7 separate regions of the Homo sapiens genome follow, and all the other regions are reported to be linked to region 1. Evidence: microRNA targets listed by miRTarBase, many of them from high-throughput screens and not tested one by one. Region 1 holds a microRNA gene; each other region holds the end of a gene's coding sequence.
The links. The annotated mature microRNA hsa-miR-410-3p reads AAUAUAACACAGAUGGCCUGU and lies in region 1 at 1,420-1,440, shown strand. An mRNA with a match to its seed (bases 2 to 7 or 8) in the 3' UTR can be bound and repressed. Matches are read on the target gene's strand: a 7mer-m8 pairs with bases 2 to 8, a 7mer-A1 pairs with bases 2 to 7 and ends in A, and an 8mer does both.

Region 1 (4,069 bases):
AATGGGTGGTGGGCACAGAATCTGGACTCTGCTTGTGGCATCCATCGTCTGGCCCGATGCTTGCTGGCTGCCCGCTCCAGGAGGCACCTTCTGGGTGTTCTCTGAGTCTGGGGAAGGTTGGGTTCTGAGGTCAGGGCTGCCCTGACCCTTGTGAAGAGAAGACATCTGTGACTCACCTGCTTTCTTCTGCTGCATTTATCCCCCCAGTCCCTTATTTTGAATGTCTCACTTGCTTTATGAGGCTAATCAGATGGTCAGCCAGCTGTTGATAACTGTGAAGTTACTCTTTGAGGGATCCTGGGGTGATGCCTCTGTGGGCTGGAGATGGTGCTGGTGAGACCGCAGGTCTGGGGTCAGCGTTGTGCCCCGTTGAGCTCCCGCCAAAGGAATCCTCTGCTGGGAGGGAGGCTCTGTGCTTGTGCAGGGGTCCCTACAGGGTCACCCCCTCTCAGGGTCTGGGAATGAAAAGCGGGTGCGAGCAGGGTTTCATTTTCATCTTTAGCAAGGTGCCCAAGGAAGGTTGCCGTCTTTTCAGTATAAGATCCTACCTGGGTCTTGCACTCAACTTCTGGGAAGAGTCTCTAGATTCATTCTGGAAGGGGTTGGAATCGTTGGACTTGGTGATTGGGAACGTCCTTGGAGAGTGTGAGGCTCTGGGCTCTGAATGCCCAGACCTTGTGCTGCCCTTGGGGGAGGGTCTTCTGCAAGCACAGCCGCCTGCAAGCATTCACCTTAGTCCGAGCATCTGAGCCTCTCCATGGTACTCGGGGAGAGGTTACCCGAGCAACTTTGCATCTGGACGACGAATGTTGCTCGGTGAACCCCTTTTCGGTATCAAATTCCACCAGGGAGGCCGTCTTGGAGGCTGGGGCACCTCGGGGAAGGACGCCGGCATCAGCACCATTCTGGGGTACGGGGATGGATGGTCGACCAGTTGGAAAGTAATTGTTTCTAATGTACTTCACCTGGTCCACTAGCCGTCCGTATCCGCTGCAGCCTGTGGGGCCTGCGGGCCGGGGAGCCGATCGCGCTTCAGCTCAGCGCCTTTCCTGGTACTTGAAGGGAGATCGACCGTGTTATATTCGCTTTATTGACTTCGAATAATACATGGTTGATCTTTTCTCAGTATCAAATCTCACCTTGGAGGACCCGTTGGAGATGAAGCCCTTTTGAGGGTAGGAGCAGGACGGGTGCTTTGGAGTCGCTGCCTCAGTGGGGCCTGGTCACCGAGAGTGGGCCGGGCAGGGGTCTCTTTCCTGTCTCTGTGTCTTCTCACCTTTGATGTCCCATCCGTCCTCAGGACTGCTTCCCGGGGGCAGCGCTGGCACCACGGGACGCGGCAGCCACGTTCTTGAGCCGATGGCACTCTGGGTACCTGAGAAGAGGTTGTCTGTGATGAGTTCGCTTTTATTAATGACGAATATAACACAGATGGCCTGTTTTCAGTACCGCTACCGCCCGGTGGTGTGCGGGCGCCACGCCTGAGGCGGGACTTTCCAGGGTACGTGAATGCATGGGCTGGTGTGACATTTGTCATCCTTTCCCCTGACCCCCGCCATTGAATCATTTTGGGAGAGCTTTCGGGGGGCCATGTGGACTTTGGGGAAGATGCTAGGGTTGTGCACTGTGGTGGGGGGCGGTCATGAAGCTGATGAGCAATGGTGACGGGGCTCAGTCTGTTTTTCATGGCCAGTGTCATCGAGGCAGAGGACACGGGGGAGCTAGTCCCGCTGGAAGGCATCCTGCTGGAAGGCCACCCACCCCTCGCCAGGATGTTGGGGGCGGCTGCATGCATTCCCTGCACCTGGGCTGCCTTCTGCTCATCTCAGTGCTGTGAGACCCTGGGTGGGAGCTGGTGCCTTGGGTGGCCGTGTGCGTGTGCTGCTCCTTGTGGTGCCTGAGGAGAGGTGGCCTGTGTTGCATTCACAGAAATCATGACACACAAGACACGAGCGGCCTCTCTTCAGTATCAGATCCCACCTGCATGATTCCTGCACCTGCTGATGTCGGGGAGGTCCGGTTGCGCGCCCTGTGGGCCCCCAGAGGCATGGCTGGTGGCCGAGCACGCGCTTGACTTCCACCTGCAGCCCTGTGCTGGCCTCCATCCTGGAGGCGGGTGGGTGGCAGGGCCCTTCCCTGTGGAAGAAGCCTCCTCCCTGGAGTCAGTGCTGCTCAGTGGTACCTGAAATAGGTTGCCTGTGAGGTGTTCACTTTCTATATGATGAATATTATACAGTCAACCTCTTTCCGATATCGAATCCCACCTTGGATGCCTTCCTCTTTGCTGTCAACTCCAGGCAGCAGCTGGCTCTGCGCTGGTTGACCCTGTGGACTTTGTGTAGGACCTGTGTCACTTGGCCTGTTAATTTTCCAGCTCCACTCTGTTCTGGGGGGCTTTGGAAGTGTGACAGAATGGCATCCCCAATTCCAGTGTCAGCGGGAGCACCCGCCATGCCCTTGCTTCCGGTTGGCACATCCCCCAGGCTGGGCTGGCTCTCAGCTACCCGATGCTTATGTCATATTTGCACCCCTGGCCTGCCCAGACTACAGGAAGATGACCAGAGGCCTGTTTGCAGCTGACCTGGAGACTTAGTGACTCCAGAACATGCTGCCCATGCCCAGGGTCCAGGGCTGAAGGCAAGGAGCACCTCAGGAGTGACCCCAAAGAATGAGCTAAGGCTGTCCTTTATCACTCATTGTTGATCAGTGAGCTCCTGGGCTCGGGAGATCTTCCTGAGCTGGGCTCCCGTCATCCCCTAGTTGAGACGTCGCTGCCTTGGAAGTCACAGCCTGTGCCTGCCCTCCCCCTTGTCCTCCTCCTCGGGACCGCTCCTCTCCATGCCTAGCATGGGAGTGGGGATCCCTGGCACCATCCCTCTGGGCTGCCTGCTCCCACTCTCCCTCAGCACCCCTCTTCCCCAGCCCCTGGGCCACAGCCCTGCTGGAGAGGCCGCCCCACAGGCTAGGTCCCTCCAGCCTGTGGCACTTGGGTCTCCCTCCAGTGCCCCTCCCTCTGCCAGGGAGAGCATTTCCAAGTGCAGAGTCCAGCTGTTTAACTCCGCTGCCCAGGGCACCTCTGCAGGCCCCTTCCCTTGGGCTTGGTACCAAAATGATCCGAGGACCCCCCAGGCCCTCAGAGTGGCAGCCCCCCTCTTCTTTTGGAGCCACAGCCTATCCCCCACGTGTTTTCATCCTTCATTCTGGCCTTGCACATGCCCCTCCTTCCGGAGCTGGGTCCTGGGCCGCCCTGCTCTGCCCTCGGCTGCCTCCTGTCCAGGCTCTGGCCCTTCCTTCCTTAAAGGCCCACATCCTTTGCATTTTCCTTTCCCAGGGGTTCACAATTCCCAAGGGGATGGAATGGCTCTTGTTCAGCAAGGTCATCCCTGATAACCCTATAAAAGCAGCTCCCCTTGCCTCTTCCCTATCACATTCTACCAGTTGCCCCGTTACTGTTTTCTTCCTAGCTTACAGTTCTCTGAAATTGCCTAATGTTAATGTCTACCTTCTTTGTGCCCTAGACTGTGAGATTTCTCATTGGCAGAAATTTCTCTCTCTCTCTCTCTCTCTCTCTCTCTCTCTCTCTCTCTCTCATCCCCTGCTGTGTTCAGTAGCAGAACAGTGAGTGTTTGTTGATTGACTAATGGAGTCCCCAAAGGCAGGGACCGGATCAGATGAATTCCCAGGCAGGTGCTGGGCACAAAGCAGGCAGTCAATAAGATGTGGTGATGGAGTACATGAATATGTTAATTGATTTTTAGAAATTCTTCCCATTTGTTCAAAGCTGTTTGGTTTTCTAGCTTTTTCTGCCCTTCCAGGATGAGGCTGAGATTAGCTGCAGGAGGCACGAGTCAGTTGGGTCTGGGTTCTCTCTTCCACTTGTCGGGGGGTGGGGGCACCAAAGCCCCAGAGGAAGTGACAGGCCCTGTGTTCCCCTGCAGATGCCGACTGATCGCGCCCCCGCCCCTCCAGCAAACGCCCCAGCGCTGAGAGCCAAATGCTCTGGGGAACTCCATCTGCAACGGGCTGGAGCGTGGTGTTAGGGCTCATATTTTATGCATGGGGCTGACTA
Region 2 (4,069 bases), not on the chromosome of region 1:
TATGCCACATGCTTATGAAATCTACTAAAATTAACCAGATGTCCTTTTATATGTTTAAGATAACTGTATAACAGGCCTAAAATATTCAGGATGAAATATAGTAAACACTATTGCTGTGTTTAGGTTGTCAAAGAGATTTATAATCATACATATATTATTTTTTGAATGCTATTATTATGGTGAATCCAGGAATTATGGGCTCATTTATACAAATGTACCTACTGAAAATATTTTGTCTTGAGTATATTATAGAGGCTTAGTGATGTTCTTTTCCTACCATTAGAACCATGCTTTAGGGCATTACACTCCTTAATAATAACTGTAATTTTTATTTTAGATTAATTTCTTGGACTGGAAGAAAGATTGATCCAGTAGGTGTTGATTATATTCTTCAAAAATTGGGCTTTCATCATGCTAGGACTACTATTCCTAAATGGCTTCAAAGAGGAGTCATGGATCCACTGGACAAGGTTCTGTCAGTTCTTATCAAAAAGCTCGGTACTGCACTACAGGATGAAAAGGAAAAGAAAGGCAAAGACAAAGAAGAACACTAAAAAAGTAATTTGATCTGTGAACAAATTATGATTGTGTCTGTTTTATTACACTGGAGTGTTTTTTTAGTATAATAATTTGAAATATAACTTTAAAATAATTCTAAATTTGTGGCTATAATTAAAAGTTTGTAAGTTAACCTGTTCTAGTTCCATCATTCTGTGTACAGTGAAGTATTGCATGATAATGTAAATTTTGTGAAAAACTAGATTAAAATATATAACTGCTTGTTATGGTTTATAATTATATAATGTGCAATACAATTCCTGCATCTTTAAAATGTCTGCAGAATAACTGTGAATTTTTTTGTTATTGGATTGGCCGTAACTTTTAGAAAAAAATCTTGTTGATGATAATGTGATTTTGGGGAGGTCATTAATTGCTTTTTCTTTTTTAAATGTAGACTTATATAAATACCTGTTTGTATATAGCTTGAGTAATTGTGATATGATTGTATACCACTAAAATATTGTTAACTATTATAATAAAGTCACAGTAATGGTTTAAGTCTGTAGTAGTTTTTCAATCTTTTTCTCCTTTTTATAATTAATAGATGCCCATGCTGTGTCACAGCTGATCAGATGCTTTCATAGAAGATGATGATTTATACCTATATTAGAGTTGGGCCATAGGTTCTACCTCTGTGGATTCAATGAACTGCAGATCGAAAACAAACATTCAGGAAAAAAAAAATATTCCACCCAAGTTCCAAAAAGCAAAACTTTTGTATTTACCAAGTACATTAAGTCCACATGAATGAAGTGATGTGTAGGCATTTTATTAGGTATTGTAAATAATCTACAGATGATTTTTAAAGAGTATCCAGGAGAATGTGCGTAAGTTATATTCAAACACTACACAATTTTACATGAGGAACTTGAGCATCTACGGATGTTCTGGAACCAATCCCCCAAGAACACAGGAAGATGACTATGTTTATAAAAAATTAGGGACAGGCACACAAGAGGTATATTAATAATACCTACGAGAAATATTAGGTATTGTTCTTTCTTAAGCTAATGGGAAATTCACAGCAAGTAATTTTTATTATACTATATTCCTTACGTGTTTGTATTTTTTGTGTGTATGAAGTTATATATAATGTATGTTATATATTACAGATACATATGTGTATTATGTACACACATTAAGTATAAAAAATTTAAAATGGCAAGATCTAAAATAATACTCAAAGGTAGCTATAATTACCTCAGGTTGGAAATTAGCCAAGTCAGTATGGCCAGTTTAAAGATTGGGTAAACAGTAGAATTGAAGAGCTAGAGTTAGAAAACACCTAAAGAAAGCCTCTAGTGCAGACTCTTAGATTTAGGTAGATAAGACAGTTTTACCTCTAACAGATTAAACAACAAAAAACTCCAGAAGAGCTGGGGTACTTAGCCAAGGGTGTAGATCTAGTAAATGTTAGTAGGGGAATTAAGATTTGCTGTCTAATGTCACAAAGCAACTTAGTCACACAACCAAAACCCTAGTGTTTTAACAGTCCTAATTTTGTATTCTTTCTGCTAGGCCATCATAGCTGTCATCTATCTGATCTCTGAATCTGACCCCCAAATCTCTTAACATTGGTGCATATAAAATAACAAGTATAAACTTACCCTATTTCTGGCACTAACTGATAACGTTATAAAAAGCAAAAGGACAAATCTGTAACTACTTAAAATTTCTATGACTGTTGGACAAAGCTATGAGAAAACTAGCACATCTGTGCACTACTGATGAGAATGTAAATTGGTACAACTCCCATGAAGGACAATTAAGTAACAGCTGTCAAAATAATAAAGGCATATAATTTTTACTGGACATACATACAATACTTCCCTGTGTGAAATAATTATACAAGCATGTATATTTGCGGTATTCTGCAACAGTGCAGTATTGTGGAAGTATGTTGCAGTATTCTTTGTAATAAATGGCTGGAAACAATTCAAATGTTCATCAGTGTAAGACAGGTTAATTAAAAGTGACATCCATTCAGTAGCATAGTATGCAACCATGAAAAAAAAGATGATCTCTAAGATTTATTCCTAAATTAAAAAACATGGTCAGCCGCTTAGATTACAAAGCTTCCAAGTGGTCTATTATAGTTATTTTTTGAGTATCACGTACCTTGTTCTATTCCAGTAAATCACACGGTGCATCCAGATAACTTGTAAAATTTCAATAACATGTAAAAAAAAATTACATAAAGGATTTTGCTTTCCTATCGGCAAATATTGTACTTCTAGGCTTACTAGAGATCTGTGATTTGCAAACTGTCTATAGTGAAGAACCCTTTTTTAGAAAAAGTTGAACATGATATAAATCAATAATCTTGTAAAATATAGTAACAATTATTCAAAATGAAAAAAATTAAAATACACAAAGCTCAAATTTTTAATTATTAGGTTTGATTTACTAGATTCAAATGTTCCATCAATTGCTGTAAGAATTTCTAGGGTATTTCTGGCAACATAGCCCAATAGGAACAGCTCCAGTCTGCAGCTCCCAGCGAGACTGACACAGAAGAGGGTGACTTCTGCATTTCCAACTGAGGTACCTGGTTCATCTCATTGGGAATGGTTGGACAGTGGGTACAGCCCACGGAGGGCAAACCGAAGCAGGGTCGGGAGTCGCCTCACCCGGGAAGCGCAAGGGTTGAGGGGATTTCCCGTTCCTAGCCAAGGGAAGCTGCGAGTGACTGTACTTGGGGGAATGGTACACTCCTGCCCCAATACTGCACTTTTTCCACAGTCTTCGCAACCGGAAGACCAGGAGATTCCCTCTGGTGCCTGGCTCGGTGAGTCCCATGCCCACAGAGGCCAGCAAGCTAAGATCCATTGGCTTGAAATTCTCAATTCTAGCATAGCAGTCTGAGATCGACCGGGGATGCTACAGCTTGGTGGGGGGAGGGGCTCGGCCATTGCTGAGGCTTGAGTAGGCAGTTTTATGCTGACAGTGTAAACAAAGCCTCCAGGAAGTATGAACTGGGCGGAGCCCACCGCAGCTCAGCAAGGCTGCCTCTCTAGATTCTACCTCTGTGGGCAGGACATCTCTGAACAAAAGGCAGCAGCCCCAGTCGGGGACTTATAGATAAATCCCCCATCTCCCTGGGACAGAGCACTCAGGGGAAGGGGCAGCTGTGGGCACACCTTCAACAGACTTTAAATGTCCCTGCCTGACAGCTCTGAAGAGAGTAGCGGTTCTCCCAGCACAGCGTTCGAGCTCTGATAACGGACAGACTGCCTCCTTAAGTGGGTCCCTGACCCCCGTGTAGCCTGACTGGGAGACACCTCCCAGTAGGGGCTGACAGACACCTTATACAGGAGAGCTCCGGCTGGCATCTGGCGGGTGCCCCCCTAGGATGAACGTTCTAGAGGAAGGATCAGGCAGCAATATGTGCTGTTCTGCAGCCTCCACTGGTGATACACAGGCAAACAGGGTCTGGGTGGACCTCCAGCAAACTCTAACAGACCTGCAGCTGAGAGGCCTGACTGTTAGAAGGAAAACTAACAAACAA
Region 3 (4,069 bases), not on the chromosome of region 1:
TAAGCTGTCTTCACACCACGGCACACCAGCCTGGGTGTCAGAGTGAGACCCTGTCAAAAAGAAAGAAAGAAACAGAAAAACATTAGCATCAAGAGTTTTCTAACCCATGTTCAGCATATTACTATAACTTCTCCTATAACATTCTGACTTCCTATTTGTTTACAGGTTTTTGATGGGAGTGGATCATTTTTGTCCTACATTAACACATCTGCTGACCCACTCTATGGCCCCCAAGGCCTGGCCCTAACTTCAGATGGTCATGTTGTGGTTGCAGACTCTGGAAATCACTGTTTCAAAGTCTATCGATACTTACAGTAATGGTGGGCAGGTGGATACCCGCTTCCATGGTCTTGCACTATAAACTGGAATGGATTTCTCAATGCGGGACCAGATTATGACTAGAGTTTTTATGCCAGAAGGAATCATTGGTGAACTTTCCAAGGTTATTTCTGAATGTAACAATTTCCTTAAAAATGACTTATCCAATTTCTGTATTTCACCTTTAGGGTTAAAAAAAACTCTTCTACTGAATCTATAAAAACTGCAGTTTTACATCTGTGAACTATGGCTTAAGGGACAGGATTTATGTAGCTAAACTAATTTTGCAAATCAAACAGACACTTAAAAAACTAGCATATGTAAAGGTATTCGTTAATCCTGTGAATGGTAGCTTTTGCACAGAACTTCCAAAAGCAAAACAAAAACAAAATCTATTGTAGTTATATACTTCATTTAACCTAGGTCACAAGACCCAGGGAATCTTCTAACCTCACTTTTACAGTAGGTATTACTCTTGTGACATTTTTTTGGTTATCAACAACTAAATATAAATTACTTTGGAAAAAGTAAGGCTGTCTTGCAAAATGATCCCAGCTCTGATTAGCAGCCCTCTGGAGTTCAGAACTTAAGTATCAGTGCAAATTTCTCAACCTTTCTGGGTTAGACAAAGATCCTTTTTTGTGTGTTCTTTTCACCACCCCTTTGGCTCACCTTGTATCAGCAAACAAAGTACTTCTTCAGGGAAACCTGAAATTTCTAATGCCTTGAAAAGCATATTACAAAAGTAATGCTACCTTTTGGGAAACAAACTGCCCCGTTAACTCCAGATCATTGCACTGGAATGTAATCAAGAAAGTTAGTCATGTTTTATGTACCATGTTTTCACACGTGTCTCTTCTCTTCGACTTCCTGAAAGCGAAAGCTTTACCTCCTGCAAATGTCAGCACATGTAGTAGGACACCAGTATCCTAGGACAGAGAGCCATAAGTAGCCCTTTGGAGGACTGATGGTGTCAACCAAAGGCATGTGATTGATTAATGATTCCCCCTTAGAAAGCAAGTGTTACCAAAGTTGTGTTATCTTGAAAGCATTACAGGTAAGGGCATGTTATGGTTATTTATCATTGTTTAATGAATAGTAGAGGTGTCAAGGGACTATGTATACATGATTAGGGTAAGATAGAATGTATTATATATATATATATATACACACACACATATATATAGCTGAATCTTTGGTGTATTGAAATAGGCAGCACTCTGAAAGACAGAAGCTTCGTCCAGCCACTCTTCAGCACATTCCTTTACTAAGCAGTTTAAAGCCGTCCTAGTGGAGCAAGCCCTAAAGCAGATTTAATTTTTGCCATTTTCCAAGAATGACGGTGGTGGCTTTTAGTCAGAAAATGGCCTTCTGTGCTTTCAAAAAAAAAAACAAAAAAAAAACCACACACACACATAAAAAACCCAACAGGTCAAAATAAAAGTTGAACTTGAGTTACATTTAATTTAAATATAAATGCATTTTGAGAAATGTTAAGAACAATTTAGTCAATCGTTCATCTGTCATTGGTACTGTAAAATAAGCTGTGGTCTATTTCCACTGTTTAATTTTCTACTCAGTTCTACCAAATAGGATGTCATGTTTGACATTTTTGATAGTGACTTTGGGGTCTTCTTCACTGAAAGCACCTTAGAACTGTACTATAAGAAAACATTTCCCCTATGTATAATTATATGAATGTGATGTTTATTGCTTATTAATTTATAATTCAGTCATTCTCTATATAGGACTTCTTAAAATTTAGAAGGGAAATCTAGCTACTTCAAATTGTCTGTTAAATTTATTATGCCCAAATCAACCTCTGAAAAAAGGTTTTTCCAGGAAGATTTACATTTAGGTTTAATATTTTTTTAGTTAGGTAGAGTTTTAAAAAATACTTGAGCCTGTCCGTGATAAAGCTATAAAATTCAATAACTTTTTAGAATGTTAAATGAAGACACTGTTTCCTAACATCAGTGAGATACATCTTTGAATTTAAACATTCATATTTACTGAGTACCTACTAGGTACCAAGTACTCTTTTAGGCACTGGAAATACAGTGATGGACAAAACAGGTAAAAAATCGCTGCCCCCTCAGAGCTGACATTCTGGGGTGGGAATTTCATTTTGCCACGTACTAACGTTCTGCACAAAAGACAGGCTAGACTCTTGTCTAGATTGTTTAAAAGAAACTTTTCAAATTGGTTACATTAATTTTAGTTTATTTTCACAAGTAAAAATGGCTTTTTATTTAGATTCTTTCTGTCCCAGGCTGTTGATCTTAAAACTAGTTGATTTAAAGAGTTTTTTTGCACAACATTTCAATTATATTTGTGAACTTAGAAATTAACTTACAATCTAACCAGCCATCATATCATATCCTATCAGGCTAGATATCTCAATAGTAGACTGAATACAAAGCTAATTTTTTTTACATGTCAATATTGGCACAAACTGGAATGAAAGAATAGTTTGATTCAGACCTGCTCCACTATGTGTTGCTAAAACACATGCTATGAGCACTCCAGGAAACACTATATTTTTTCCAAAAAATATGTGATTATATATGTTAAAGTATAGATAACATTTCACACTTGGATACATATGTGCATTTACTGTATTTCTTGGTAAGCATATTTTTGGGGGAAAGTGCTGCTGATATGATACAAGTAGACAAAATTTAAATGAAATTTTGTCACATTCTATGGAAAATGGTTTCTGGTAAACTGAGAAGGATATTAAAATAAGTGGCTTTTTTCTGGGCTACCATTATTGTTTGATTTCTCTTTGTCAAGTGTATAGAACCTGTCATACATTCATGATAAGTAGCACTGAAAAATTACTCATTCAAATTTCCCCTGGGCACGTAAGGCAAAATATTGCCGGTTGGGATTTCAAGGTCAGTGACGACGCATTTCCTCCCAGTACAGACCCCCCAGCCCCCCTTGCTGGACATGGGGAGGCAGAGAGTCACTTGACCATCCAGAAATACATGACTACAAGTCCTTTATGACTGTTTGCCATTTTTTTTAATGGTACTTAGTATTTTGATCAAACTTTAGTCTCCAGAACTAAACAAGTCCCTAAGTTTCCTTATTTTAATTTACTGTGACTAGATTTGAAGCAAATAAATACTCCAGATCCATGCAGCTAGAACACACTTGCTTCCACTACTAAATATACAGGGTATGTCCTAACATGGAGTTAACTGGAATAGCAGTACACTAGCAAGTATCTGTGAATCCTTAGCACTGACGGGTTAACAGAAATGCTTTGGTAATACCTACTTAGTTAATTGGAGGAAGTAGTAAATAAACATTAGGTAATCTGCAGATTACTTCAAATGGGAAAAATCTTTTTGTAGACTCTATAGTACCCTCTCTATTCACTAGCTTCTGAAAAGGGAGGAGTATTTTTAGTTTGACAATTTAATAATTTAAAAACAAGACATCTCCAGGTAGGAAAAAATGAAAGCTATTTCATGCAAACATTATCTAATTTAGCTTAAAAGTGAAAGTGGTAATACTGTTGGTTTCTGTAAATGTTGCAGGGTTTTAAACTTTATAATTACTTTAATATTTTTGATAACTAGAAATCTAGTATTGCCATAAAGGAAACTAAGTGCCCATCAAAGATTTGTTTGGTATAAATAAAGAATTATTTGTTTTGTTTTCAATGACAGTAAGCTACAAATCATGATGCTTAAAAACTTTCTAAAGATGAATTGTGTGGCAGTGATTGGTCTGTTTG
Region 4 (4,069 bases), not on the chromosome of region 1:
CTCTGGTCACTATCTGTTAAGGGGGTGGGATTGTAGACAGTTTCTTTCTTTTCCTTTTTTTTTTTTTTTTTTTTTGGGAGTTCCTGTATTTTCCAAATTATTAACAATTATATAATGATAAAGGAAAATGATTTTATATAGGGGTGTGTGTGTGTATGTGTTTGTACTTAAGTAAAAGTAGTTTTGTTATTTCTCGGCTGGATTTTTCTTATGTCTATTAAGTATAATCACTGTCTATTGAGTCAGTAACTAATTTTTAAAGGAGTCTTGAAATGCTATCTCCCCCTAACTGCTCACTCACAGTTAAATATTCTGTTCATGACTTGAAAGCAGACATCAGTTTAAAGGGTATGAAAAGCAAGACAGGTTCTCACTGGGAATTTCTAAGGCTTAATATACCTTTGACTTATCAAGTTGACTGAGACAGTTTAATGCTATTCATGGTATGGGACCTTGTTGCTATAAATACGAATATTTATCACTTGATTCCATATTTGATCGCCCCTCCATTACTCTCTCTTTGCCTTTTGATGTTTGCTGCGTATTGCCCAAACTTTCTCTTCTTCACTCCTCTAGATCGTGAACCTTATAGAAGAAACTGGACACTTTCATATCACAAACACAACATTTGATTTTGATCTTTGCTCGCTGGACAAAACCACAGTCCGTAAACTACAGAGTTACCTGGAAACATCTGGAACATCCTGAGGATATAACAACTGGATGCATCAAGAACTATTGTGTTTTTTTTTTTTGGTTTTTTTTTTTTTTGGTTGTGATTTTTTGTTCTTGTTGTTTATATGAAAACACTCAAAATGATGCAACCAAAAGGGAAAAAATAAAAATCAAACAACCTTCAGCTTTATTTTTCTTTAAAGCCAGTCATCATCTCTTGATAAAGGAGAGGTTAAAGCAAACCAGCCTCAGCGGACCACTCTTCTCTCCAAGGAAATCCCCGGGAAGAGTTAGCCTGGATAGCCTTGAAAACAAACAAATCAAACACAACACAAGAAAACTCAAAGAATGTGTATGGTATCATGTATCTCTCTGTGGTGGTTCATTCCACAGGACGAATGCATATTCAACACACTGCCTTATTACATAACTGATCTATTTATTATCGCATACAGATATTCTAAGTCGTTGAGGGAATGACACCATCAGACATTATAAGTACTTGGTCCCGTGGATGCTCTTTCAATGCAGCACCCTTGCCATCCCAAGCCCAGTGACCTTACTCGTATACCGTGCCACTTTCCACCAACTTTTTCCAAGTCCTTTAACTCGTTGCAGTCTGTATTTTCCACCTTTTGTTTTTCCAGTTCCAGGACACAGATTATCAACTGGGGGGACCAAATAGCCACCTTGATTTTCTTCTTTGTGGTCTTTTTCCTGAAAGTTGGGGCCCAGTCCTTGGCTGTATCCATGTAATGATCTTGGACCATGGTAGAAAATGCACCAAATAGGATCATATGAATTGCTGTCTAGCCTTAGTCAATAAACTTGTAGGACTTTTAAACAAAAGTGTACCTGTAAATGTCCTGAATCCAGCATTGTTGAGCTGTCATCAACATTCTTGTGTCTGTTTTACTGTTACAATATTAGGTGAATATGGAAGTAAAGGCATTCCACAGGATCATCATTTAAAAAAAAAGAATTCTGGTCCTGTTTTCTAAAAAAAAAAACTGTTGTAGAAATTCTTAATTTGGATCTATTTATTAGTCAGAGTTTCAGCTTTCTTCAGCTGCCAGTGTGTTACTCATCTTTATCCTAAAAATCTGGAATCAGAGATTTTTGTTTGTTCACATATGATTCTCTTAGACACTTTTATATTTGAAAAAATTAAAATCTTTCTTTGGGGAAAAATTCTTGGTTATTCTGCCATAACAGATTATGTATTAACTTGTAGATTCAGTGGTTCAATACCTGTTTAGTTGCTTGCTAATATTTCCAGAAGGATTTCTTGTATTGGTGAAAGACGGTTGGGGATGGGGGGATTTTTTTGTTCTTGTTGTACCCTTGTTTTGAAACTAGAAATCTGTCCTGTGGCATGCAAAAGAAAGCAAATTATTTTTAAAAGAAAAAAACCAAAGTACTTTTGGTGTCATTATTCCATCTTCTCCATAAGTGGAGAAATGAAAAGTAAGAACAGCTCATCTTCAAAGTTTTTACTAGAAATTCAGCCGAAAAGAAGAGAAATGAAGAAATACTTCTGGATCCAAAGGTTCGTCACTGGATCAGCCTTAAGAAAGTCTCTATGTGTGCTAATAGACCAGTATCTCCCTTGTTTGTTCCCATGCCAGATGCTGTCTTTTCATACAGAGATTAACTAGTGTCTGTACAGAAAATGGTCTTTCCAGACCCATTCTTTTGGGCAGTTATATAAATGCAGATTGATAATGGAGTTATTTCTGCATTTTAAAAAGGGGATTTTTTACACTGTTTCTTTCTATCCAAAGAAACTATTTTTCCTTTAAAAAATTATAATACAGCCATGCTCCTTGTAAATTATTTCTCTGAAGCGTCCTCCCAGAGGACAAGTGTACTTTCTCAATAATGTTATGATTCTTAATGACGATTGGCATGAACCGTACTTGAAGCATTTGTTGTATTGTCCACTTCTTGATGTGCAGAGAAACTTTGAGTCATTTTGGACATTAGGTGATTGATGAATTGTGTGGTTTCAGTTGCGTTTTGTTTTTAACTTTATAGCTGGAAGGGGAGGGTAATGTTTATATGGAAATGTTGCAAATTTTTAAAATATTTTAAAATTTCTAACTGCTAACACATATTCTGATCAAGCCAGAAGTTTATGTGATTTAATATATCTGTGTAGTTTAACTAGAAACGTATATATGTAGTTTGGGCCATTTTTATTTCTGTAACTAAATTGTGGGGCAAAAAATATGATTTGCCAATGTAAAAATTTTTTCCTTTAAGTTACTAACCAAGAAGCTAGGTAAGATAAGAAATGACCAAACAAAAATAATGATAAGAAGGACAGCTATTATATGATAAACTTTAGACTTGAAAATTAGGTAATAAAGTTAATTTCTTCAGAATATCCTAAAATGTAAGTTTGTAAATTGATAAAGTTCAGAAAAACTTATCCATCTTCTACTCATCAAGATAGCAAAGTAAGTTTTTCACAAAATTAAGACTGAGAGTTACGTTATTTTTTTTGAAGTGGTAATCTTGCTCTCATCTAATTTTTAAATACAGAAATAAAAAGATCCCTTTGAATTAATTTCAAGTAGTTTTAATACCTCTCTTAAAGTAACCCCTTCAGTTCTGTCACATTTATATACACCCAACTTTGAAGCCTATTAAGAATATCTTTGACATGTGAGTACCCTAACAGTGGCTCTGGTTTCTTAAGCACAAAGGGAAAATGGCAGGGTTTAATTTCTTTGGTGTACATATATAAATAGATGTTTCAAATAAAATTAATTGGGTAAATGTGAATATGGTTTGAACCAGCCAGAGTATGATAAACTTTTAAAAAATTTTTCCTCAGTGATCAGCCAGGGGAAAAAATATATGTACAGAGCTCCTGCCCCTCTGCCCCCTTATAACTTAGCTTTTGCCTCTGGTTTTGCAGCAGGATGTGTGTTGGTGGGTTTGGGGTTCCTTCTGTCTTCGGATGTAACAGTCATGTTAGCAACAATATTTTGCAGTTACTTCACCATCCTCAGCATAATCTGCCTCTCTCTCAATCTTAATACAGACAAATAGGTATGTCTATAAATGCGTTCATATAGTGTCAAGGTAGGGAAGACTATAAAAACTTCAGATCAGGAAAAAAATATCTCTTAAGAGAGTGTCTTAAACATTTTAAATTGCTAGGCAATTTAAATCTCTCTAATCTGAATATTCACCTTTTGGTGGAAAGAGCCAGTAATATTGGTTTTCTTCCACTAAAAAGTTTCTTCAAAATTTTTTTTTTTTTTTTTTTTTTTTTTTTTTTGCCGATATCTTTTACAGGCCCACCTAATCTTTAAAAAAAAGAGAAGAAACAATTTTAGGCCTGTATAACATCCTATTTACTACTTCAAGCTCCACAAATGTA
Region 5 (4,069 bases), not on the chromosome of region 1:
GCCTGGCTGTGAACCCCCATCAACATCACAACTGTTTTGACACCAGGCTCAGATGGGGAGTTCTCGAACAGCATGGCCTCAGCAATGGAGGTTGTGTCTTGGGTAACCAGAAACCTGAAGCCCGCAGGAATCCTGGAGGGGACTGCTGGTCTGGGAAAACACCATTCAGAACTACTTAACTCTCAAGTAGCCTGACATTTCTCTTCCTGCTACCTTAGCTATAAGCTGATAATCTGAGCAGCTCTGCGGGGATACCAGGCTCCTGCTCAGCTGTGGGTGGGCAGGTGGCTGTGCTGGGTCGCCCCTGCCGCCTACAGGCAGAAAGCGGATGGTGCAAGGTTTCCTTCCAAACGGAAATCGCCCTTCACAGAGCTGAGCCTGGGAATTACCACAAAGAAACCTCACAAAGAAAAGGTGCGCAAGGCAAATGTTCAGAAAACAGACCCCTAAACCCTGAGATGGCACAAGTGAATGTGTTGGGTGGTGAACTGGCCAAATGCTTGTGCTCTGTCACCACAAACGACCCCAGTGGTCTGACATGACCTCAACGGCTTCACAGACCAGGGGTGTGCTTTCCTTCCTCGTGACAATCTCCTAATTTTGCTTTTCAGAGTGGGGGAGGGCGGGGAGAGGGGAGGTGGATGGCAGTTGTCCCTGTTGTCTAGTCTGGAGTACAGTGGTGTGATTTTAACTTACTACAGCCTTGAACTCCTGGGCACAAGCAGTCCTCCCACCACCTCAGCCCTCCAGGTGTATGCCACCACTGTAGGTTAGCATTTTTTGTAGACACGGTTGCGCTGTTTCTCAGGCTGGATCCTAGCTTTTAATGAAATCGTATGACATGTGAACTGTGCAGTTTTGCGTGTGCCACGAGGCAACTTTCTCAGCCGTGCCTTGGGCAAGTCACAGCCTTTTTGGCCTGGATGCCTTAAGGCAGCCCATCTGAAACCACTTCCCATTCCCATTTCTAGAAACCTTCAAGGGTTCCCTATGAATTGTGCACCCACATGGGTTTTCCTGGAGGATCACTAGTTCTCAGAACCATACAAGCACACAGCAAAAGCCTCTCCACACATCACCCTGAAGTGACCCAAATTCCCATTTCTCAATGTGGGACCTATGCTCTCCTGCACTCCAGCAAGATAGCTGTGGATTCCCACCTGATGCTGTTCCTCCTGCTGCCAAGTGCCTGCCTGCCTTTCCAGGTCTCAGCACACCACACAGGTCGCAGTCAGCATCTAAACCCATCCCCCCACCCCAGACCACTATGAATGCACCCTCACATACAGGTAAAGGTAGCAACTCACTAGGTGACTGACAGAAGGGGAAAGGTGACTACATCCCTGACCCAGAGTGCCTCAAATTTCCTAAGTGACTGTCAGGTGCAATTTAATGAAAAGCCTTGGAACAAATACAGCAGGTAAAACATCTACAATCATACCATCCATGAAGGCTGTATTAGAGATTGCTGGCATAAAACTAATTTGAGGGGCCTCTGAAGTGCTGACTCCAGCTCACAGATCAGTCAGCTGAGAGAGGCAGCCTAGATCACTTGGTGAGCAGCAGACCCAGCACTCAAGATTCATGCCTCTGCTGTCCATTTGACAAGGTTTAGTCTCAAGAAAATGCACCAAGGCCCCGAGGCCAACAGCCAGAGCTCCACCAATCAGGGCTGATCACACTGGTGCTCAAGCACTGCGGCCCAGGAACCTGACTGCAGGAGTGCTGGCTCTACACTAACAGAATGCTGGGCGTGTGTGGGTGGCTGCTGTGGACATTATGGGGGAGATGGGTAGGAAGGACAGATTTGGTTAGGAGCCCAGACTGAAGTTACAACTGCCAAGTTTAAATTCACTCATTTTGTGCACCGTTTCCCAAGTATGTACTGTGAAGGTAGAAGGCACTGTGGCCGCCTGTAAATAGCTGGGGAGGCAAGACACGAAGACCAGATAAATGTTAAGAAACATGCTCCCTGTATGTATTGAAATCAGTTCTGCAACCCTCATACCAGTTGGCTGTAACAGATGCTAAATGTGGTGGGTAAAATGTTTTTAGTCTCATGGTCTTACCATGAATTACTTATTAGAAAGGTAAAGGAGATTACCACCCTAAGTGCTCAGTCATCAACAAAGGAATAGACACACAACTCCTGAAGACATGTCATTGGCACCAGGGAGTGGTTTCGTGGAAGACAATTTTTCCATGGACAAGGTGGGGTGTGGAAAGGGATGGCTTCCAGATGAAACCATTCCACATCAGATCATCAGGCATTTGATTCTCCTAAGGAGCGCACAACCTAGACCTGTTGCATGCCCAGTTCACAATACTGGGTTTGCACTCCTATGAGAATCTAATGCTGCTGCTAATCTGACAGGAGGCGAACCTCAGGCGGCAATGCTGGCTCACCTCTTCCTAACAAGCCATGGACCTGAGACTGGGGACCACTGCCCTATGGTAAAGGCCCTGGCCAAAATGCAAACCTCCATCAGGTCAGGAGCAAACAGACAAACCCACATTTAGAGACCATCTAAAAAAGGCCTGGAGTACTTAAGAATGTCAAGACTAGGACAAATTTCCCCTGACCGCCCCCAGGACTCTGGGCAGAACCTGAAAACCCTGTAACCACAGCCAAACCCTAGCACCACCTGCACTCCTGGGACACACTCTGGTTGTAGTTTCCACGAAAACAGGCCGTACATTAGTAGCACGATTATTTTATTATATGCTTTATAAAAAAACAAACACCCAAAGACATACAACACACCGCCCTCACCCCCCAGCGGCCATTAGGGAGGGGGCTTATACTTTTCCTAATGTAGATCTGGCCATCTTATAAAGCAGACCACATTATTTGTTTCCATATATACCTGTAGATATTTCTCTCCCCTCAAATATTTATATCTCGACTAAAAAAAGGAGGTGCAAAGAGTATATAAAGATAAATGAGATTTTCTTGCTGTTGTTATAGTACAAACACCAGATGACTACCAGTGGAGTAACAGGGCAAAACAAAAACACAAACCCCACCTTCAGTGAGGAATGGAAGGTCTGTTACCGACCTCAAGTAGCTGAATCACCTGCTGTAACTGGCACCTCCCTGACAATCATGGGTTTGTAGGGACATGGGCCAGGTGATGGCTTCTACTTGTTTCCAGAAGGCTAATGTGTCCTACACCCTTTCTTAGTAACTAAAGACGAACTACGGGAGAACCCAGTATTTGGATTCTGCCCAGAGGTATTAAATGCACAAGGAAAAATTAGTTATGTCCAAGTAGCAAGCAATAATATTTTTAAACCAACATGGTTAAATGTTAAGATTTGTAGAAATCAAAATATTTATTCACATAATTTTAAACTAAAGTTGAAGCTAATATATCTTCCGTGGTAATGATTTAAGTGCAAGTGATGCTTGGCTTTCTTTCACATTCATTTCTTTTCTTCTGAGTGAAGGCATATCAGTTATTCTTGAACAAGTCAATACAGCTCTGCAAAAGGGAGACATTGTTCTGTGGGGAAAAAAGGCAAGGCAGACCAGTGAATTATTAAAACTTGCCATATACCTGGAATGACTCAAGTACACCAACACGGCTTTTCACGGGAGGTTTAAAGTCAGCCAGAGCAAGCTGGCCCTTCTCTTCATCAAATCCCAGGTGAACTGCAACGTACCACGCATCCCCATTTCATGTTTCAGCTCCTCTCCCTCAGTGGGTAAGGCTACCAGCCAAAGAGCCGACGTTCACTCCAGCACCTCTGCCCTCACCTGCTTGCTCCTAAATGTGATCCTGCTTACTGTAACTTCTTAAGACACTATCAGTGCGTTGTTCCATGAAGGCAAGGGCCTTGGAAAGATTGAATAAAAGTTGCTAGAAATTAGGGCTGGGAGCTTTAGCTCACACCTGTAATCCCAGCACTTTGGGAGGCCAAGGCAGGTGGATCACCTGAGGTCAGGGGTTCAAGTCCAGCCTGGCCAAAATGGTGAAACCCCATCTCTATTAAAAAAAAAAAAAAAAAGTTGCTAAAAATTAGTCATGGGTGACATTATAAACAAGACTACAAATAAACAATGAGT
Region 6 (4,069 bases), not on the chromosome of region 1:
AGCCATACCTTCATTCAAGTTAAAGACAAGCCTTTCTGAACTGGAAGGGCTTTTTTCTATTTAATGTGAATTTTTATATAAATGTTGTGAGACATCAGGTGTTGGTTTTATGACCTAAATCTCCATGGATAATCTTTCACCTTCCTCACTTTCAAGTTCTAAAGTGACTTATTTTTATGCTCCATATACAAACTAGATATAGAAAAGCCTGCCTAGAATTCAGGCATCTTGAGTCCCAGCCCTTTAGCCAGTAATGGTTCAATAAAAAGAACTCTGAGAATGGAAAACAGAAGCCTGTGGTCTAGCTCTACAACATGTCAACAGGCATTTGACTGCTAAGCTTCAGTGGTCTCATCTGAAAATCAGGGATATTAATATCTTTCCTTTCTATTGTAAGATGTTGTTTAGAGAAATCTGTGATATATAAGACATAAAAAATGCTTTGTAAATTATAAAGTCCTTTACAAAGGTGAAATACCAAAATATTTGTTTTCAGCCTAAGTGGTTGCAAAATGACTTTGTCATTCAAATATATGTATGCACATATGTAGACTATTTATAATTGCTTTGAAATATGCACTAACTTCTTTGGTTAATCTTTCAGACCCCTTGGTCAATGGTGTTCTGGCTTACTTATGAAAAAATCAGAGAGATGAGTGGAGTCAGTCCATTTTAAACCCCTAAAGATGCAACCCTTAAAGATACAGTGTTCAGTATTATTGAAATATGGGCATCTGCAACACATACCCCCTATTATTTCTACCTCTTTAGGAAGACACCTATTCCACAGAGACTGATTTATAGGGGGCAGCACTTTATTTTTTTCTGGAAACCCAAGTTCTCTTTGACTCCTCTTTTTGTCCAAAAGTGATCTGGTCGGATCTCACAAGGCCATCCAATGAGACCCCGCACAGCATTTTCTAAAGAAGAATCGAAGCCTGACCACTTTCACCTTGGGCAAGAAGGTTTGGCCTTTGAGTTGCTATTCTATGCTGAAGAGCCTGCTTAGAGGAGGAGTACCAGGAGGGAGCCAGCATTTCAGATCTGAAGTAGACGATAGGAATGTGGAAGAACACATACATAGTGCTTAAGAAATACATTTAACCTGTTATGTCAGTATTTATCAATGAAGTTTGATAATTCACTTTTCTGTCATTGTTAAAGCGTACATACTGTAAATTAAAGGGAGGTGAATGGAAATTAATGAATAAACATTTTGAGTTTCCCTAGTGTTGAAGGAAGGTGTACTTTTTCTTGTCAGAAAGATAAAAAAAATCAAGTTGAGATGATGTTTGAATTTCAAGAAAAGAGGCTGCTTTCTGTCAGTGCCCTCTCATTAGATCTGTGTTAATTAGTTAGCACTCCACTGCACATGCTAATGACTTCCTCTGACAGCCACACACCGAATCTTGATGAAAAAAGAGAAGAGCATTTGCCTTGTTACATAGTCTGTTACAAGCCAGATATGTTGCTAGCTCTCAAGAGTTGTAATATATTAAGAACTACAACTTATTTGATTAAAACTCAGCTGTATAGATCCTTTTATAAAGCACCTTTTGTTAAACATCAGCCTTTCATTGGTATTTTAAAAGCAAGGCAGATAGATATGAAGTCAGCCAACTCTGACATGCGTCCTTTCTTATCTCCCTTACCTGACACTAGGGGCTCTAGAGAGGCAGAGAGAGCACTCACAAATCACACTAAAACTGCCAGCGGCCTGACTCTTACTCAGTTTAGCAAAAATTCTTGCCTAAAAAGTGATAAGTAAAAATCTGTTTATGGTATACAGTTATGTCTCGAATCTTTGAATCAAATCCATGTTCTTATTTTAGAAAGGTAAGAGTTCTTCAAATTCAGCTACATACCACCGGCTCTCCCAACCTCAGACGGTGGGCATTTCTGGATGGATGGCTGCGGTTATGGATAAAGGCTGTAACTGTTAACACAGAAAAACATGAAAAGCTCAGGCCCAAGAAAGGCCTTGGAGCCAGCCAAACAGAATTTGTTCTAATGGACATGGATGATGTTGAACAGAAAAAAGTTTACAAGTGCTTTGTGGTTGCACTAATGTATACTCACTGCCATTTTAAGAGGGGGAAGTACATTTTAAAATATATTTGAATGTCATGTACTGATATGCAGTAGCTTATTGTTTTTCTAGTTGCAGAGAATGTGAAGTTTAATCTCTTAAAATATTTAGATGGTCTACTTTTTCATTGAATTTGTCAATATGTAATTGCGTTGTAAAATATTATATATATATATATATATATATATATATATATATGCTTAACTTCCCAAGTGTTCTGCATTGAACCACTTAGGGAAAATTTTGTTTGTTTTTATGTTTTGTAATTTTTAAAATTAAGTAAAGACTGGATCAAAATAATTGCATCCAACCTGGACCGTGAACAATTGATTTAGCTTTATTCTTTGTGGGGTCGGGGAGTTGGGATGAAAACACTGCTTACGCACTGACATCATTCCTTGGGATCTGGATCAACACGAATTTCAGGAACTTTTAACCTGAAATGACTCCTTGGGATTATCTAATTTAACCTTCCCATTTCACATGTTAGTAAACTGAGATTCAGAGAAGTAGAGTTGTTTATGCTCATGAGTGACTTAGTAGCAGAGCCAGGATAAAAACACAGTTCTCCTAATATGATTATTATGACTGAGAGTTATTGTTCACTAATTAGGTACCAAGGAAGGGTCTTATGTCATGGTCACAACCCAGTAGAGTCTTCTAAAAACAGATTTTTCCTTATGGCATTTTTATGTCTCATACATTTTAGATGAATCTGAATTGTCTCTAGCATACATTTTAGAATGGAGTCACCATGCTTTAGCTTGAACATGAAGACCTTCTATAACCTAACCAAATCCAGTATACCCAATACTTATCCAATCACATTCATAATTTTCTGGTGAAATCATATCTACTGATTATTTTGGAACATTGCTTATTTTTGCCAACTTGGAATCATCTTGTTTTCCAAAATAATCCTCAGTAAATAAAAAGGATTAAAAATTTCAGTAATTTTTGTGTCCATACTCACAGACTTAAGAATTCCAAACTCACTTACTTATAGTACTACTCTATGTGGTATTTCTCTATTTTTTCTCCTCTCAAATGATTTTTTTCTTACTGAAAATGCATATACTTATTTTTAATTATGTAGTTTTTTATATGTATAAATGAATTAGTATATATAATTATAGACTAAATTTGCCATATATGATATAAATTATATATGAATTAATTTATATATAATTAAAGGGATAACATTTATTAAGTTTGCTTTCAATATGGAATAACATGTCTTTTTCAAGTGCTCCCAATACTATTTGATTGTAAGCTACTAGTGGGTAGGTATACATCTTCCATTTTTATATAAATCTCTGCTCTCTTTAGTAGCATTTCTTTGCTATTAAGAAAAAATGATTACAGCTACGTATAACATGAATCAATTAATTTTATCTTTATTGTTTTAAGAATCTGTGACTGGCCAGGCATGGTTGCTCATGCCTGTAATCCCAGCATTTCGGGAGACCGAGGTGGGCGGATCACGAAGTCAGGAGATCGAGACCATCCTGGCTAACATGATGAAACCCGTCTCTACTAAAAATACAAAAAATTAGCGGGGCGTGGTGGCGGGCGCCTGTAGTCCCAGCTACTAGGGAGGCTGAGGCAGGAGAATGGCGTGAACCCAGGAGGCGGAGCTTGCAGTGAGCCGAGATCATGCCACTGCACTCCAGCCTGGGTGACAGAGTGAGACTCCATCTCAAAAAAAAAAAAAAAAAGAATCTGTGACTATCATATGAGTCTGCAATTTCTCTTTTACTTTGCTAATAAAAAAATAAAAATTCAGGACAATATAAATATGAAAGGATTTGTTATTCAGTCATCTTCAAATTTTCAAGCACATTTATTTACAGTTGTTATAATTACATATATTTTTTCTATTAATGAAAACAAATTCCTTCAGGACTTTCCTAGAAAAAATGGTCAATTTTAATACTTGATGGTTAAAACAATTTCTTTGGAAAGGAAAATAAGTAATTC
Region 7 (4,069 bases), not on the chromosome of region 1:
ATATGCTTCTTGTTAAAAAAATTATCTCCTTTTATGATTCTCTACTCGAAAAAAATCAACCACTTTCATTAGTAGACCAAGGTCTCATCAGGTAAGGAAGGCTTTTACTGTTCTATGATTTTCATTACATTGTAGGCCTTTTTAAAAAATAACATAGTGATTGCCAGGTGCGGTGACTCCCTCCTGTAATCCCAGCACTTTGGGAGGCCGAGGTGGGCAGATCATGAGGTCAGGAGATCGAGACCATCCTGGCTAACATGATGAAACCCTGTCTCTACTAAATATACAGAAAATTAGCCGGGTGTGGTGGCGGGCACCTGTAGTCCCAGCTACTCGGGAGGCTGAGGCAGGAGAATGACGTGAACCTGGGAGGCAGAGCTTGCAGTGAGCCAAGATTGCTCCACTGCACTCCAGCCTGGGTGACAGAGCGAGACTCCATCTCAAAAAAAAAAAAAAGTGATAATCATCCTATTGCAGGTCATAATGGTTCCTTTAATCTATATGAGTATGAGTTCCCTTTGCCTGAGAGCTACATAAAACACATCTTCTGTATATTTGATATTAAAACCCAATCCTTACTGTGCTTTCTTCACAGAACATTCAGAAGATTCTCGGCCTTGCCCCTTCACGAGCCGCCACCAAGCAGGCAGGTGGATTTCTTGGCCCACCACCTCCTTCTGGGAAGTTCTCTTGAACTCAAGAACTCTTTATTTTCTATCATTCTTTCTAGACACACACACATCAGACTGGCAACTGTTTTGTAGCAAGAGCCATAGGTAGCCTTACTACTTGGGCCTCTTTCTAGTTTTGAATTATTTCTAAGCCTTTTGGGTATGATTAGAGTGAAAATGGCAGCCAGCAAACTTGATAGTGCTTTTGGTCCTAGATGATTTTTATCAAATAAGTGGATTGATTAGTTAAGTTCAGGTAATGTTTATGTAATGAAAAACAAATAGCATCCTTCTTGTTTCATTTACATAAGTATTTTCTGTGGGACCGACTCTCAAGGCACTGTGTATGCCCTGCAAGTTGGCTGTCTATGAGCATTTAGAGATTTAGAAGAAAAATTTAGTTTGTTTAACCCTTGTAACTGTTTGTTTTGTTGTTGTTTTTTTTTCAAGCCAAATACATGACATAAGATCAATAAAGAGGCCAAATTTTTAGCTGTTTTATGTACAAGGAGAGATCTGTTTCATTTTGTTTTGCCGTATTTCTAGATATAAGTTTTAGCATGGGCCAGGAAGGACTAAAATAAAAGTTTTTAAGGTACTGTACTTTTTGCCATACTTGACTCATATACTCAAAATACAGAGTTGTCTTGGTGTAGGAATTGGAAAGCAAGAGTGGAAAGGAACGTAATAACTCGTTGGAGTTTAAAAATGAGGGTCTTGGCAAGTAACACTGATGTCTGAAAAAAAATTAAATATAAATAAATAAATAAAAATGAGGGTCCTCAGCTGTTCTCTTCATATCCTATTACAGTCTCTCAGATTCTTGTGGGGGCACTCTTAGATCTCCCTTGGAGACAAGGTTATAGTTATATGTTGTTAATCTCGCAGAGCTTCCTTTTAGTCACAATAGCCTTCATTTTCTGCCATGCCCCTTCATAAGGGAGAAGGATGTTTGTACCATGATCCTCCCCGCATAATCTATGGAATTAGGAGTCCTGTGTGGAGTCTTATCAATAAATATGCACATTCATCAAATGTCTACTTAAATGTGAGTATTCTACCAGTGAGAAAAAACACATAATTTTCAAGGTAATCATTGTTAAACCAACAGCAAACTTCTTTCTTATCAGCACCATAAAGTCCAGAAGACAGTAGAAAAGTATCTTCAAAGTGCTGAGGAAAATAAGTATCAACTTAGAATTTTATGTACAATATTGGAGGCAAAATAAAGACATGTTTAGACATACAAAACTAAGAGAGTTGAATTATTAAAGGTTATATTCCAAGGACAAAAAAGAGGATCTGCCCAAGGTGAAGGTATGGCATACAAGAAACAATGGTCAACAGAGAAATAAAATATATGGATGAATATATGGATAAATTTGAGTGTTTTATGGATTATCTAATTTAAGGATTATCCCAAGACAGCCCTACAAGGTAATTACTGTTCTTACCTTCATTTAACAGATGAGGAAACTGGGGCAGGGGAGGTTAGTAACTTGCTCTGCATCACAGAGCTATTGAGTGGCAGTCAGGATTTGAATTCAACCAGTGTAAAGCCTAATAGTCCAGGCTGTCAAGCTCTATATTACAGCCTCCTCATGGGTATGTGGTGATTCTCTTCTCATCCCATCTCCTCAACTAGAGTGTGTGAGCTCTCTAAAGTTGGACTTTGTCTTTTTTTTTGTTCTCCTTATTACAAAGTAGTCAACGTGGGTGGAAACACAGCAGGAGCTCAATAAAAGCAGATGAAAGGGAACAGAAGTCCCTATTCTGAGACTAGTTTTATCAGAAGGATGTCTGATAATGGATGGTAATGACTTTTAATGGTCTTTTCTCCATATCATTGACCACTCTAAGCAAAATAATAATTCGAATGATAATGAAGAAAATGATGCCCATGATAACAATAATGACAAATATGAAATGGCTAAAATAAAACATGAAACCATCCTCAAAATTCTGCCATCACCTTTTTAAAGTGAGAATATATAGCACACTCTATCACTCATACCCTGAGGCTTTGAAGTTGGTGCTTTCTAATCAGACTTCTTATGGACCAGGTTTTCATATACAAATTATGTTTCCATGGTAAGGAATAAATAAGAGGGAGAAGTTAAAAAGGAGAGATTACATCTATTCACCCTATTCATTAAAATTTTTTTAAATTTTTTTCCAAATATGTTCTGCTTATGTATATTCACTCTATTCTTAAAAGCACAATAACAAAGATATATTACAGAGGAAATAAAACTATCACAAGAATTAAATTCAAGGAGTTATTAAGGGCTACTGCAGCCTCACAATTAGTTTTTTAAAATTTCTTGTCCTGAAGAAATTTCAAGACTAGTTATTTGGATGACACTCTAGGTCCACAGCATCACCAGATCATTGGAGATGACATTTCAAGACAGGCCTCTGAACATCTCTCATAACACATAATTTGGTTATTTTCCCTATGTAAGATGGATTGTCTCCTGTCTAGGGAAGAAAAACAGCCATTACTAATATCTGCATTAGTCTACTCAGGTTGCAATCATAATATGCTAAAGTAGTAAACTTTTAAAAATGACAGTAAACCTGAGTTTATTAACAGGTTACATTCTAAAAGCTAAGCTAGTTTGGAAATTGGAAAGCAAATGTGTGTAGATATTCATATGTCCTTGACCAGACTGGGCCTTTCTCTTCCCAGGTAAGTCATTCTCTCCAATGGGGCCAGTTACTTAAAATTACATCAGACAATTGATAGAGCTTCTAGATCCCCCTTCTAAAACAAAAGCATTTTGCCACAAACTAGGATGGAGTAGGTTTTTTTCAGACTATTTATACTTATTTTATGTATTTCAATACTGCCCTTTAAGTAAAAGTACTATATACTTTCTCTTTTTTTAGATTAATTCTGCTTAAGTCAGTCTTTTAATTTATTCTAGTTTGAGTTTTTAAAAAATTTTAGAATGAAAAATCTCAAAAATATACTATTATGTATATACACTATTTTATATATATATATATATATATATAGAGAGAGAGAGAGAGAGAGAGAGAGAGAGAGAGAGAGAAAGAGAGAATAAAGAACACCTAGGTAACCCATCCTCCACCTTCGACAATTATCAGCTCCTAGCTAATTTGTGTCATCTGTAACCCCACCTGCTTCTGCCCTTTCTGTATTATTTTGAAGCAAATCTTATCATTTATCTGTAAATATTTCAGGACTTTAAAAAATATGTGTAATCTGAATACCATTTTTACACCTAAGAAAATGGACAATTCCTTAATATAATGTGTTGTCTATAGATGTCAAAAATTTTTGCAGTTTTTTGGAATCAGGAACCAAGTAAGGTACTGAATATTGCAGTTAGCTGATACACATCCTAAATTTCTTCAATTGTTGTGGTCCT

Region 2: miRTarBase lists BLTP1 as a target of hsa-miR-410-3p. Seed matches in the 3' UTR shown: 7mer-A1 at 796-802 and 7mer-A1 at 958-964.
Region 3: the mRNA of TRIM2 is a reported target of hsa-miR-410-3p. Seed matches in the 3' UTR shown: 8mer at 719-726, 7mer-A1 at 1,468-1,474 and 7mer-A1 at 2,880-2,886.
Region 4: the mRNA of MLLT3 is a reported target of hsa-miR-410-3p. Seed matches in the 3' UTR shown: 8mer at 2,378-2,385 and 7mer-A1 at 3,301-3,307.
Region 5: miRTarBase lists SNX5 as a target of hsa-miR-410-3p. Seed matches in the 3' UTR shown: 7mer-A1 at 2,930-2,936.
Region 6: the mRNA of SLC25A27 is a reported target of hsa-miR-410-3p. Seed matches in the 3' UTR shown: 7mer-A1 at 2,252-2,258.
Region 7: the mRNA of TMCO1 is a reported target of hsa-miR-410-3p. Seed matches in the 3' UTR shown: 7mer-m8 at 1,537-1,543.

Annotation. Positions count from the first base shown.
Region 1 is chr14:101,064,542-101,068,610 of GRCh38, forward strand. MIR410 (microRNA 410) reads left to right here and starts at 1,371; the gene lies at 1,371-1,450. It overlaps MIR541 (microRNA 541), which reads left to right; the gene lies at 1-37. MIR409 (microRNA 409) reads left to right here and starts at 759; the gene lies at 759-837. MIR412 (microRNA 412) reads left to right here and starts at 906; the gene lies at 906-996. It also overlaps MIR369 and MIR656.
Region 2 is chr4:122,361,694-122,365,762 of GRCh38, forward strand. It overlaps BLTP1 (bridge-like lipid transfer protein family member 1), which reads left to right. Exons shown (of 88, transcript NM_001384125.1): 88 at 338-1,059. The coding sequence ends at 554. Among named protein-coding and RNA genes, the nearest start is that of ADAD1, 15 kb to the right of the region's middle.
Region 3 is chr4:153,334,649-153,338,717 of GRCh38, forward strand. TRIM2 (tripartite motif containing 2) reads left to right here. Exons shown (of 12, transcript NM_015271.5): 12 at 166-4,069. The coding sequence ends at 318. Among named protein-coding and RNA genes, the nearest start is that of MND1, 8.0 kb to the right of the region's middle.
Region 4 is chr9:20,343,082-20,347,150 of GRCh38, reverse strand. MLLT3 (MLLT3 super elongation complex subunit) reads left to right here. Exons shown (of 11, transcript NM_004529.4): 11 at 577-4,069. The coding sequence ends at 708. It overlaps LOC124902129 (a long non-coding RNA gene), which reads right to left and starts at 32. Exons shown (of 4, transcript XR_007061434.1): 1 at 1-32.
Region 5 is chr20:17,938,902-17,942,970 of GRCh38, forward strand. SNX5 (sorting nexin 5) reads right to left here. Exons shown (of 13, transcript NM_014426.4): 13 at 2,699-3,506. The coding sequence ends at 3,456. Among named protein-coding and RNA genes, the nearest start is that of SNORD17, 22 kb to the right of the region's middle. RefSeq lists enhancers at 1-404, 37-166, 1,407-1,496, 1,527-1,616, 1,592-2,183.
Region 6 is chr6:46,675,779-46,679,847 of GRCh38, forward strand. It overlaps SLC25A27 (solute carrier family 25 member 27), which reads left to right. Exons shown (of 9, transcript NM_004277.5): 9 at 605-2,412. The coding sequence ends at 676. All of the region lies in intron 1 of TDRD6-AS1 (TDRD6 and SLC25A27 antisense RNA 1), which reads right to left. Among named protein-coding and RNA genes, the nearest start is that of TDRD6, 10 kb to the right of the region's middle.
Region 7 is chr1:165,724,648-165,728,716 of GRCh38, reverse strand. TMCO1 (transmembrane and coiled-coil domains 1) reads left to right here. Exons shown (of 7, transcript NM_019026.6): 7 at 596-1,922. The coding sequence ends at 694. Among named protein-coding and RNA genes, the nearest start is that of ALDH9A1, 28 kb to the right of the region's middle.